Linked DNA regions of Homo sapiens. The protein of the gene in region 2 purifies or fractionates together with the protein of the main gene of each other region. This does not show direct contact. Each region holds a gene or a part of one and is shown on either strand. Other genes may lie near its edges.

Region 1 (4,741 bases), on a different chromosome or scaffold from region 2:
TCCTAAGTAATAGGTACTATTTTACCCAATGACATATTAGAAAACTGAGGGTCAGAGAAGTTAATCTATTTAGTTGAGACATTTGCCCAAACAATGTTCCCCAGCCGGCAAGTAGTAAAGCAGGATCTCAGACCTTAATCTTTCTCTAAAATCCATGCTTTTCCCCATCACACAATCACTCTCTCAAAATTACCTGCAAGCAAGAATGAAATAATTAAGGATCCTAGAAGCATATATGACATAATTTAATTCTAATGAAATAGTCAACATATGTCATTGATTTTAAAAAGTACAACCCATCCCTGCCCCCAGCATATCTTTTTGGTTATCTCCTCTCTGGTTTTAATGTAGTTCTAGTTATTGGCTGCAAACTGAAAAAAAAAAAAATCCCTACAGGAGTTTAACATATTAAAATATTACAAATTGTATGGTTTATAAAACCCTTTCATATCCAAGGTTAGCAAGGCACATATTATTATAACCTTTTTGTTAATGATAATATAAAACCTCATTTTCCTATCTCGACTTTATTAGTTAAGTCTAAATAGACTTAACTTTTTCTTGTTGAATACCTCCTTTCTCCCCTCTCCTTGATTAATTTTACTGGCTAAAATAGGAAAAAGTTTTTACCTTTTAACCCACATAGTCATGAAACTGTGGAAACTGTCTAAATTTAATAGTCATTGATAGAGTCTAGCAGACTCTAGATTAGAGCTCAGGCTCTCTCCATACCCCACAAGGCTTTTCTTTTTTTTTTTTTTTCAGCTCCACCTTACAGGAGACTCTCCTGAAGTGAAACCCTGAGCATGCAAATGCTGGTTCTGCCTGGGAATGTAAGATATCTTGCTGCTATCATTTGCTGAAGTATCCCGTAGAAAACATGGAGTTACAGATAGAAAAAGTCAAGTTTAATTTAGGGACTTTACAGGCATTAATAGACAGCAAAAATGAAAAGCTGAAAAAGGGAGTAAGCGTCTATAAAGGAAGTTAATTTCACATGCAGTTCTTTAGAGACATTGCATATGCTAAGTAAGTGGAACAGGCAGCCTGTGGACAGCAGCTCTGGTAACTAGGGCAGGGACCAAGTCAGATGGCCGCTGGTGACCCTGCTCAGTAAGTTCCTAGAAAGACATCACTGGGCTGCTGGTCATTTCAAAGGAAACTTTATTAAGAAAATGATACATTTGGGGTTTTCTGGATGCAGTAGGTTCAAATGTCCTACCTAGCAGAGTGGCGAAGCCCACAGTGTGATTGGGGTGTCTACTTTGTAGAGCACAGTCAACTGAAATATGGGAGCAAAAGAACCTCTCTGTAGTGATCACAGAAGTACACTAGCAGAAGCTTTAATAGTATTTTGTATGCCTCAGGAGTCTCTATTTCATCATCTCAAAAGGCTCCAAAGCAGTGGAGACATTTTTAGGCTCACTGTGGACATGTGAACACGGTAAAGTAAGCGAGTCTCTCGTAAGGGAATGTGAAGGTTAGGTTACACTCTCTCAAGGTGAAATACTGGGATCACTCCCAGAATGCTCCAGAGAAATACAAATAAAGTTTCTGCCTTATTTCCCACTCACTATCCTGTGCTGAGAAGACTTCCTGTAACAGTAATTTTGCCGATCCTTAGCCCAAGGAGTCTAGACTCCATGGTCATCAGAGAGGAAAACTTCCCCCATGAAAAATACAGTTCAACTGAACTTTTCTGAGTCTGCCCCCTCATTCACACTTTGAACTTCTACTTAAGGAAACCTGATGGGAAGTACATCACTCTATTCCCAGCATCCAGTACAGCACCCACCACACAGGAAGCAAACAACACTGGTTTGTTGAACAGAACCCTAAGTACTAATGTAACCAGAGGCCCAGATGCCTTTAATATGCTCCGTTTCCTATTCCCCAACAAAAAGCACATCTTACTTCAGGAAACTGAATCAAGAAATTATACAGGTTCAAAGGAGCCTTAAAGATCATCTGTTCCAATCTCCTGAGTTTACAGATGAAGAAACCAGGGTCCATAAAATGAAGAGATTCCCCTAATGCCAGGACTCAAGTTTCCCAGGTTCAGAGCTAATACCAAACTGAAACACGCTTCAATTGAATTAGTTTTCATTAAGTTACATTAAAATTTTAGAGCTGTGGTTTATCATTATTTTGGAGTCATCTTCCTTTTCTGACACCATATTACTCTCCCTGGTGTTATTTCTTCCTCTAAGTAGTTAACTGTTTATAAATAAACATTAAAGTGCCCTAAGGGGATAGTTACTTTTTACAAATCTTTCTGTGAATCTTTCAAGGCAAAGAATGCTATCATAATATGAAAATGTATCATTCAATTTAACTATTCAAAAATTGGTGCTTTTGCATAGTGAGTTTTTCTTTCAGCAAGATACATTGCTGGAATTGTTTTCTTAAAAACCGGAATCGGTGGTCTTAAATGCAAATAGAAAATATTTCAAAACAAGCATAAATGGAGTAGTATTATCACATACTGAAATTCAGACCTACCACCAAAAAACTGAGCAGGACTAAGTTTGTCAAATTCAGTTGTTGAAAACAAAATATCTTTTAAGGCTTTTGTATCTTTATTGTGGCAAAGGAAAAAAAAAAAGCCCTATCTGGCACAAATTATTTTAAAAAGCCTTGCAGTTTTCCCACTGATTAGGAAATAAATGAATGCTAGAAGCTAGGAATGTTGTAAAATTTTGCAAAGCAAATAATAGAATTGAATTTTGTCTTCTTTTCTTTTTAGCATGCCAAGACAACTGTTGAAGTTTTTTTTAAAAATAATATTGCCCTTTCCACATTGAAGCCAAGCTATTTGTGAAGCCAATATGATACAGTATTTTAGATGCTCTGCACATTGATTTATTCTACTGCTTCTAGATTATTTTAAAGAAAGCACTTAGTTCCCAACCTCAGAGCCTATTTTCTACGACTTACTAACATAATCAATAATTTTTGATATAATCTCCAAAGAGATCATCAAGCCATCAATCTTTGAGACATTTATTTTTCAGAGGCATTCCTGGTGTGCCTCCCCATCCTGCCCTTCTGCTCTGTTAGGATGGATCTTACTGTGGGACTCAGAAGGGCATGCAGATTTTTCTTTCCATGGATGAATAAATACCAGAGACCTTGGGGGCAGGGAACAGCAATCACAGAGACTACCTCTCTGGGACAGCCTTGGCTCTGTAGGGTACCTATGCTTGCTTTGGTAACCTGATAAAGCTGTTTTCTGCCAACATTAATCTGGTCTGCTTAAATTGGTGAGACTTCTGAACACTACCAAAGGTATTTTAAAAATATATTTCATTTTCATTCCCTCTCTTCCTATCTTTTCTATTTTGAGGGGATTTTGTTAGCCAAATCGGGAGGGTACTCAAGAAATTTGCTATGTTAGGCTGTAAAGCAAAGAACAAAGTCAATATAGAGTCCCCTTGACAGGAGTCCTTGAGGAAGGTGACCCGTGTTCAAACTGCAAATGGAAGATCAGTCTCTGCTCTGGTGTATGCAGTGCCAGAGCCAATGCCAACACAAAGGCAGAGCATGCAATGGTTACAGAACATGCACCTTGGCACTTGACTGCCTGCATTTGAATCCTATCTATGCCATTTACTAGCTTTACAACCCCAGGCAAGCTATTGAACCTCTCTGCACCTCAGTTTATTCTTCTATAAAATGAGAACAATAATGCCTACCGAATAGGATTTGAGTTAATAAATGGAAAATACTTAAAACACTTCATGGCACATTGTATATAATTGTTAGCTATTATCATTAATAAAGGCAGATTTTAGAGAAGACAAAATCTGGGAATCACAAGACAGGGAGTAAAATTTACAACCTACTCTACGTTTTATTTTCCAGTAGAAAAAAACACCCATCAAAGGTAAAGGAAAGAATGTCCTTTCTTTACTAAAAGCAAAGGAAGAACACTATGTTAGCCTCAAAGGTCAGAGAAACCTGAGTTGAATCCAGGACTTGCCATCTAGTGGCTGGGTGACTTTGGGGCTAATATTGAAAGCTTCATTAAATCTCAGTTTCTCTATCTTTAAAATGGGGAGTATAAGAGTTCACACTCTCAGGTAAAAGGCTTAACATAGTGTCCGGCACATAGTAAATATTCCGTGAATATTAACTGACATAATTATTAAGGTTTTCAGAAGCAGGGATACAAAACAAAAAACGAGTAAAACTGAGGTAAGGATAAAGGGTCCAGAGAGGGACCACACCTAATATGAAAGCTACCCTTTCACAGATCACAAACTTGTGCCAGGGGTCAGAGTCAATGCCACAGAGAGGTCCTGTGCATGGTGACATGGCCAAAAGCTATTGCCAGAGCTCTGTAATTGATTCCAATTCCCGTGTGTGCACTTTCAAACTCCAAAAGCTACAGCTGCGTTAGGGAACTACTCCTTAGAGCTAGCATTTAATTCCTGGGGAGTTCAAGCAAGATTTCTCCTTGCAATGATGAGTCCCAGAACAGCCAGATACTGCTTAGCCCTATCTTCTAGAGCAGCCTATTCTGATACCACCCAAATTACCATTCTCATGGCGCTACTTTATGTTCTGGGTCCTTGCTCCTGAAATCAGTTATAGACTGCTCGTATGACATACTTGGGAATAAAGTTTTACTCCCTGGTTGGTGCTAATGGCTGCCTGAAAAGAAGAAAAAGGGTTTGATGTGGGTTATTTCTTTAAAATACAAACCACTGTAGCTAGAGAATGTATAAGATAATATACT
Region 2 (5,991 bases):
TGCGGGTGCACTTTCCCCTAGGAGCCTGTGGCCCTGCAGGCAGCACCGGGAGCACCCCTGGGGCTGGGCCTGGGGCTGACAATGGGGCTCCAGAGTGTGGAACGTTTTCTAGAACTCTGTGGCTGAGAACCATGAGGCAGCCGGTGCCCACTCAGCCAAGTCCCCCAGAAGGCCCCTGTGCCCACTGCCCAGGCCCACCAGCCACTCGCACTGAATGCGAGGCCCCCACCCACTCCACCAGCACTGGCACTGAGACCCAAGGGGAGCTGGGCTTGGGTCCAGCTGCTCCAGGTGAGCTGGCTGGGGAGGAGGATGAATAGGGCTCAGAGTGGAAGGCCACAGCTGGAGCGCCAATCGTGCTGCCCCTTCTCATAGGACCCCTATGACCCACAGATGGCAGGGACCTCAGGAGAGATGCTACTCTCCATAAAGGCAAAAACAAAGCCTCACACACCTACTTTTATCAAACAAAAGTACAAAAGCAGTTGCTGTAAGAAATATTTCTTCAGTTCATTACCACAATTTATGTACACGTTCAACGCCAGGTTTTTCTTCACTGCTTATTTCTAGGAAATGGTCTATGGTGGAAACGTCTTCAGCTGCCTGCTGGACTGTTATTTCTTGAAAAGCACACTTTAAAATGTTCTCATAGCTGAGAATGGGCTGAAAAGAAAAGAAGAAAAGCATACCAAAGTTAGGAGAAAGACATACATAACGTTACCTTATTCCAAAGAAATAATTGTGATAGAAATGAAATTTGTAATTGATCATACCATTAGTGTTACTATCACTTGACATATTCATTCCTAAAAATCACCAAGTTAGCAAAATCACACAAAACCAGAGGACTCATGGGAAAGGTGGGGTTAGGGCAAAACATTCAAACTTCATCAGTGACACATGAAAAAAGATGACCACCCAATAATGTCAGTGCTGTTTTCCAGTTTGGTTAAGAAATTATACATGCGGCCGGGCGCGGTGGCTCACGCCTGTAATCCCAGCACTTTGGGAGCCCCAGGTGGGCAGATCACGAGGTCAGGAGTTCGAGACCAGCCTGGCCAACATGGTGAAACCCCCATCTCTACTAAAAATACAAAAATTAGCTGGGTGTGGTGGTACACGCCTATAATCCCAGCTACTTAGGAGGCTGAGGCAGGAGAATCGCTTGAATCCGGCGGGTGGGGGGCAGAAGTTGCAGTGAGCCGAGATTGTGCCACTGCACTCCAGCCTGGGTGACAGAGAGAGACTCCGTCTCAAAAAAAAAAAAAAAGAAATTATACATACTACAGTAAGCACAGCACTTTACCTTGGAAAAGACAAAGGCTCGCAGGCTGAGTTAGTGTGAAGGGGTAGGAGGAGGGTGGTCTGAACCGGGTGAAGTCCTAACACCAGGTGTTGACAGGTGTGCTACATTGGGGCACTAAGCGCTGTGTGAGGGTGTACGTGTGCGAGTCTCATGTATTCCAACGGGCCCCAGCTCAGCTGGGGGCAGTTTTCTGCATTTATCTACTCTTTCTTGTGAAATTTCAACTATGCTCTAATTGTTCCCTAATACATCAATCACGCTGGAAAACAAATCCTGTATTCAAAACAAGCATTACAGCAGACCTTACTCTATTAAGAGTGGATCTCATCAGGATTCCAGGGAAACTGCTTCAGAAAACAGTCCGGCCGGGCATGGTGGCTCACGCCTGTAATCCCAGCACTTTGAGAGGCCGAGGCGGGCGGATCACCTGAGGTCAGGAGTTCAAGACCAGCCTGGCAAACATGGTAAAACCCAGTCTCTACTAAACATACATATATATATATATATATAAAAAGTTAGCCGGGCGTGGTGGTGGATGCCTGTAATCCCAGCTACTCAGGAGGCTAAGGCAGGAGAACTGCTTGAACCCAGGAGACAGAGGTTGCAGTGAGCCGACACAGTGCCACTGCACTCCAGCCTCAGCGACAGAGTGAGGCTGTCTCAAAAAAAAAAAAAAAAAAAAAAAAAAAAAAAGAAAAGGAAGAGAAAACAGGCCAGCCCTGAGAACTACAATATCTTTATTTCCTTCCTCACTGGTTTTATTTCTGATCTCTCATGATGGTGCTTGGGATGAACCATTTGGGAAGAAGTGGCAGAGAAAGAGGAACAATGGAAGGAAGAAGACAGGAAAAGAGAAGGAGCGGAAGTGTCACCAAACGGTAAACACCCACAGTCTGCTCTGAAAGAGAGCAGGGGGCAGGGGCCTGAAGGCTGGGACCCTGGCTCCCGGACAGGTCGGAATGGGCATCACCCAATTCATTACAAGCTCCCGGACAGGTTGGATCCCGCGTCACCCAATTCATTACAAGCAAGTTGAAATGTGATCATGTGATTTTAGAATCTCTGAGACTTTTGAACTCAGCAGATTCAGAATTCAGACAAAAAGCTCCTCCTCAAATGCCCTGAGCTGGGGCCAGTGCAGCCCCCACCAATGGGGAATGGACAGGCTGGGGGAGGAATGGTCAGAAAGAGCGACCCAGCTCAGGTGGCCCCCACCTGGCCTTCGTGTGACCCATTTCTGCAGCCTCCTCTGCCAACTCATTGCTTCCCTGGCCTCAGGATGGGACTGCCAACCACATGGCCAGGGACGAAGGCCAGGAGAGAAGCAGACGCTCTGGGGCTGTCAGCCCCCTCCCTGGCCAGCACGCCACAGCATTCGAGGGCTGTAGGCCTCTTGGTGTGTACACGTCCCACTCAACATGGTGACCACAGCACAGCAGAAATACCTCAGAAGGTGGGACGGCAGAAGTTCCTGTCACCCAAGGTCCACCCTGGCATGGTTGGTGAGAACTGCACTCTTTTGGGGCAGAAGTGGTTCTCGGTGGCTGGGGTTCTGTGGGTCCCTCGAGGAGTTCAAGGGACTGTGAGAATTGTCCAGACTTGGCTGAAGATTCCCGAAAGCCTTCAAACTCCCCCCAAGTGCTGCTGTGTTCCCCAGGGTCAGGACATCGGGCAGTGCAGGTGGAACCGCCCTCACGGGGCATGGAGATGCTGGCTTTCCCATCGGACAGGAGAAGGTCGGGGCAGGTCCGTCTCCATTCCAAACTGTCATCACTCAGCCTCTCAGGTGCCACTCGGAGGGAAGCGCTGGCTGCTTCCTCCTGGAGGTCACTCAAAGGCTCTCCCCCCAGCTCCCGCCGGCCTTGCATCTTGGAGCCCCCAGGCCAGCAGAGGCCCGATGGGCAGCTGCTCAGGAGACATGCACGCCGGGGTGCTGGCCGCCCAGGACTGCCCAACCTTCCCCTGCCCTGGAGAGGGCCAGGGGACGCTGCAGGAGTGCCCCGGGCTGCCCAGTGGCTGACGGTGGAAAGTGCCCACGTGCTGCTGTGGAACTGACACAAACCACAGGAATGGCCCGGTCGCCCGGGAGTCCTGGCTTCCTCCCACGCAGGCGGGCGCGGAGTCCGACACAGAGGCGCGTACCAGACCCACGGCAGGTGTGAGAGGGGCGGCCCAAGGTGGGGCTCCTGCTCTGGAGAGAGCCGCGAGGGGGCCTGGGAGGCCCACGCTGGCCAGAGGAGCGAGAGCCGGGCGCCCGCGGGAGTCCCAAGTGGGAAGGAGTGGGTGCGGCGCCCCGGGGCCTCCCGAGAGTCCCTCTCGCACGCGGCCCGCAGAGCAGCCCTGGAACGCCTGGGCCTGGACAGGGCCCGAGGTGGCCGGCTAAGCGCCTGGCCCACGGCTCCCGAGAGTCCCCGCACCCACCTTGGTCGCCGCCTCGGCGGGGCCGCGCGGGACCAGGGCGAGAGAAACCTGCAACCAGCCGTTCCCTCCTGCCTGCGCCGCCCCGTTGCCTGGCAACGGCGTGCGCCAGCTCCGCTTCCGGCGTCCGTCGCCGTGGCGTCAGCACGCATCCGGGGCGAGGCCAGCGCCGGCCCCCGCCGTTCAGGACCCGCCCCGGACCCGCCCTCCCTGCCCCGGGCCGCCTCCGCTGCGGGTGGGATCGGGCTTCCACACTGGCCGAGCCCTGGGCGCCGGGCCGCTCGAGCTTTCTGTCCGTGCTCAGTTCGCCGCCCGAGTGGTTCTTTCTTTTTTTTTTTTTTCTTTTTTTTTTGAGACGGAGTCTCGCTCTGTCGCCCAGGCTGGAGAGCAGTGGCGCGATCTCGACTCACTGCAAGCTCCGCCTCCCGGGTTCACGCCATTCTCCTGCCTCAGCCTCCCGAGTAGCTGGGACTACAGGCGCCCGCCACCACGCCCGGCTGATTTTTTTGTATTTTAATAGAGACTGGGTTTCACCGTGTTAGCCAGGATGGTCTCGATTTCCTGACCTCGTGATCCGCCCGCCTCGGCCTCCCAAAGTGCTGGGATTACAGGCTTGAGCCACTGGGCCTGGCCCTAGAGTGGTTCTTTCTTCCTCACGACGAGCTCCCCAGGTCCGTCCCAGCGCACCCGTCACCCGCAGCCCCTTCTCCCGGCGCCCCGCAGCCTAACTTGCCGCGCCGCCGACCCCTCTGTGGGTGCAGCTGAGCGACGGCCCCTCAGGACCCCACCTGTCCCTGGCGAGAGCCAAGTCCGTCTTGCTGACTCCTGAATCCCAAAACCTCGCCCGCCCCTAACTCGTCCCCATTCCTGGGGGAAGGAGCTGCGGGGAGGCTCCACCCCTCCCTCGCAGGCCGCATGGAGTGCTCCCCTCCTTTGTCACCAGCCAGACCCGGGCAGAGCAGGGCTGACGGACAGCCCCTCTCCAGCCACTGGACGACCAAGGAGCTAGGCTGGCCTCTGGCAGCTCCCCTCCGGGCTTCCAGGCCTTCTGCCATCTGCCCTCACCCCCAGACTCAAGGAGTCAACCTTGACTCCATCTCCTCCCTGGCCTTCCCAGACTGGCCCCCATCACTGCCTCCTCTGGGTAAGGGGAGGGCCTGGCCCTGGTGAAGCCCTGAACCATGCCACCTACTGTCCACCCCCTATCTACCTCAGGCTCGCATTTCTCCCACCCTGGGGCCTGGGGCCCTGCCTGGACTCTGTCCTTGCTTGAATCACCCCTTCCCTCCCTGGTCCTTCTCAGCCAAGCTACAGAACAATTTAATTTTACAAATGACAAGATGAGATCATTCTCTGCACCTTAGACCCAGCCTCCTGTCCCCGCTCCTTCCTGAGGGGCAGAGCAGCCGGGCCATGCAGTATGGAAGCTCTTCGGTCAGACTGCCCAGGACTGGATCTTGGCTTGGCCACCCCAGCACCGCAGTGACCCTAAGGATGGTGATCAGGAGCTGGCTGGGTTTGTAGACCAGGCCTGGGCCTGTCTTGCCAGCTTAAGGGCAGTGTCCGTTCCCACTGCTGCCCCTCATCCACTGCACGTCCTTGCCGTCCTTGAGGCCCAGGGAGCTGGGAGGGGGGCAGGAGGAGTGTTGTCCTTGTGTACAGGTGGGGAAACTGAGGCCCCACCCCAAAGGCCTGCGTGAGAAGCAGAGCTGGGACAGGAGCTGCTCTCCTCGTTCTCTGCAATTCCCCACCCCCGTCTGGGCCTCAGCTTCCACGTGAAGAGCGTGGGGAGCACAGTACTCCCAGGGTGGTTGGAGGATAGAAATGACCCATATGGGTTGAAGAGCTGGTGTGGCAGTTGAACAGCCCCACAGAGATGTCCACATCCTAACCCCTGGAACCTGTGGCTATGTGACCTTACAGGGTCAAAGACACTTTATAGATGGGCTTAAATTAAGGCTCTTGAGAGGAGGAGTGGAGCCTGGATGAGGCATGTAATCACAAAGGTCCTGAGAAGGAAGCAGGAAGGTCAGAGTCAGAGAGGAGACGCAAAGATGGAAGCAGAGCCGGAGTGATACGAGACTGCAGATGCCTCTGGAGGCTGAAGGGACCAGAAAACAGATCTCCCCTGAAGCCTCCAGAAGGCACACCATCCTGCCCACACCTAGAACTGGAGTTGATAAATGCGCACATGCTGTTTTCAACCACTGTGTCGGGGGTATTTTGTTATGGCAGCAGCAGGGAACTAATATGCCTGAGTGACCCCT

The links. The genes of interacting proteins can lie anywhere in the genome.
Region 1: the proteins of CLBA1 (region 2) and FAT3 purify together in Homo sapiens (affinity purification with mass spectrometry; one large-scale study listed by BioGRID and IntAct). This does not show direct contact.

What each region holds. Positions count from the first base shown.
Region 1 is NC_000011.10:92,346,001-92,350,741, reverse strand, and holds part of FAT3 (protocadherin Fat 3 isoform 1 precursor), read right to left. Parts: intron 1-4,741.
Region 2 is NC_000014.9:104,983,615-104,989,605, reverse strand, and holds the start of CLBA1 (uncharacterized protein CLBA1), read right to left. Parts: upstream 3,819-5,991; 5' UTR 3,175-3,818; coding exon 2,752-3,174; intron 664-2,751; coding exon 518-663; intron 1-517.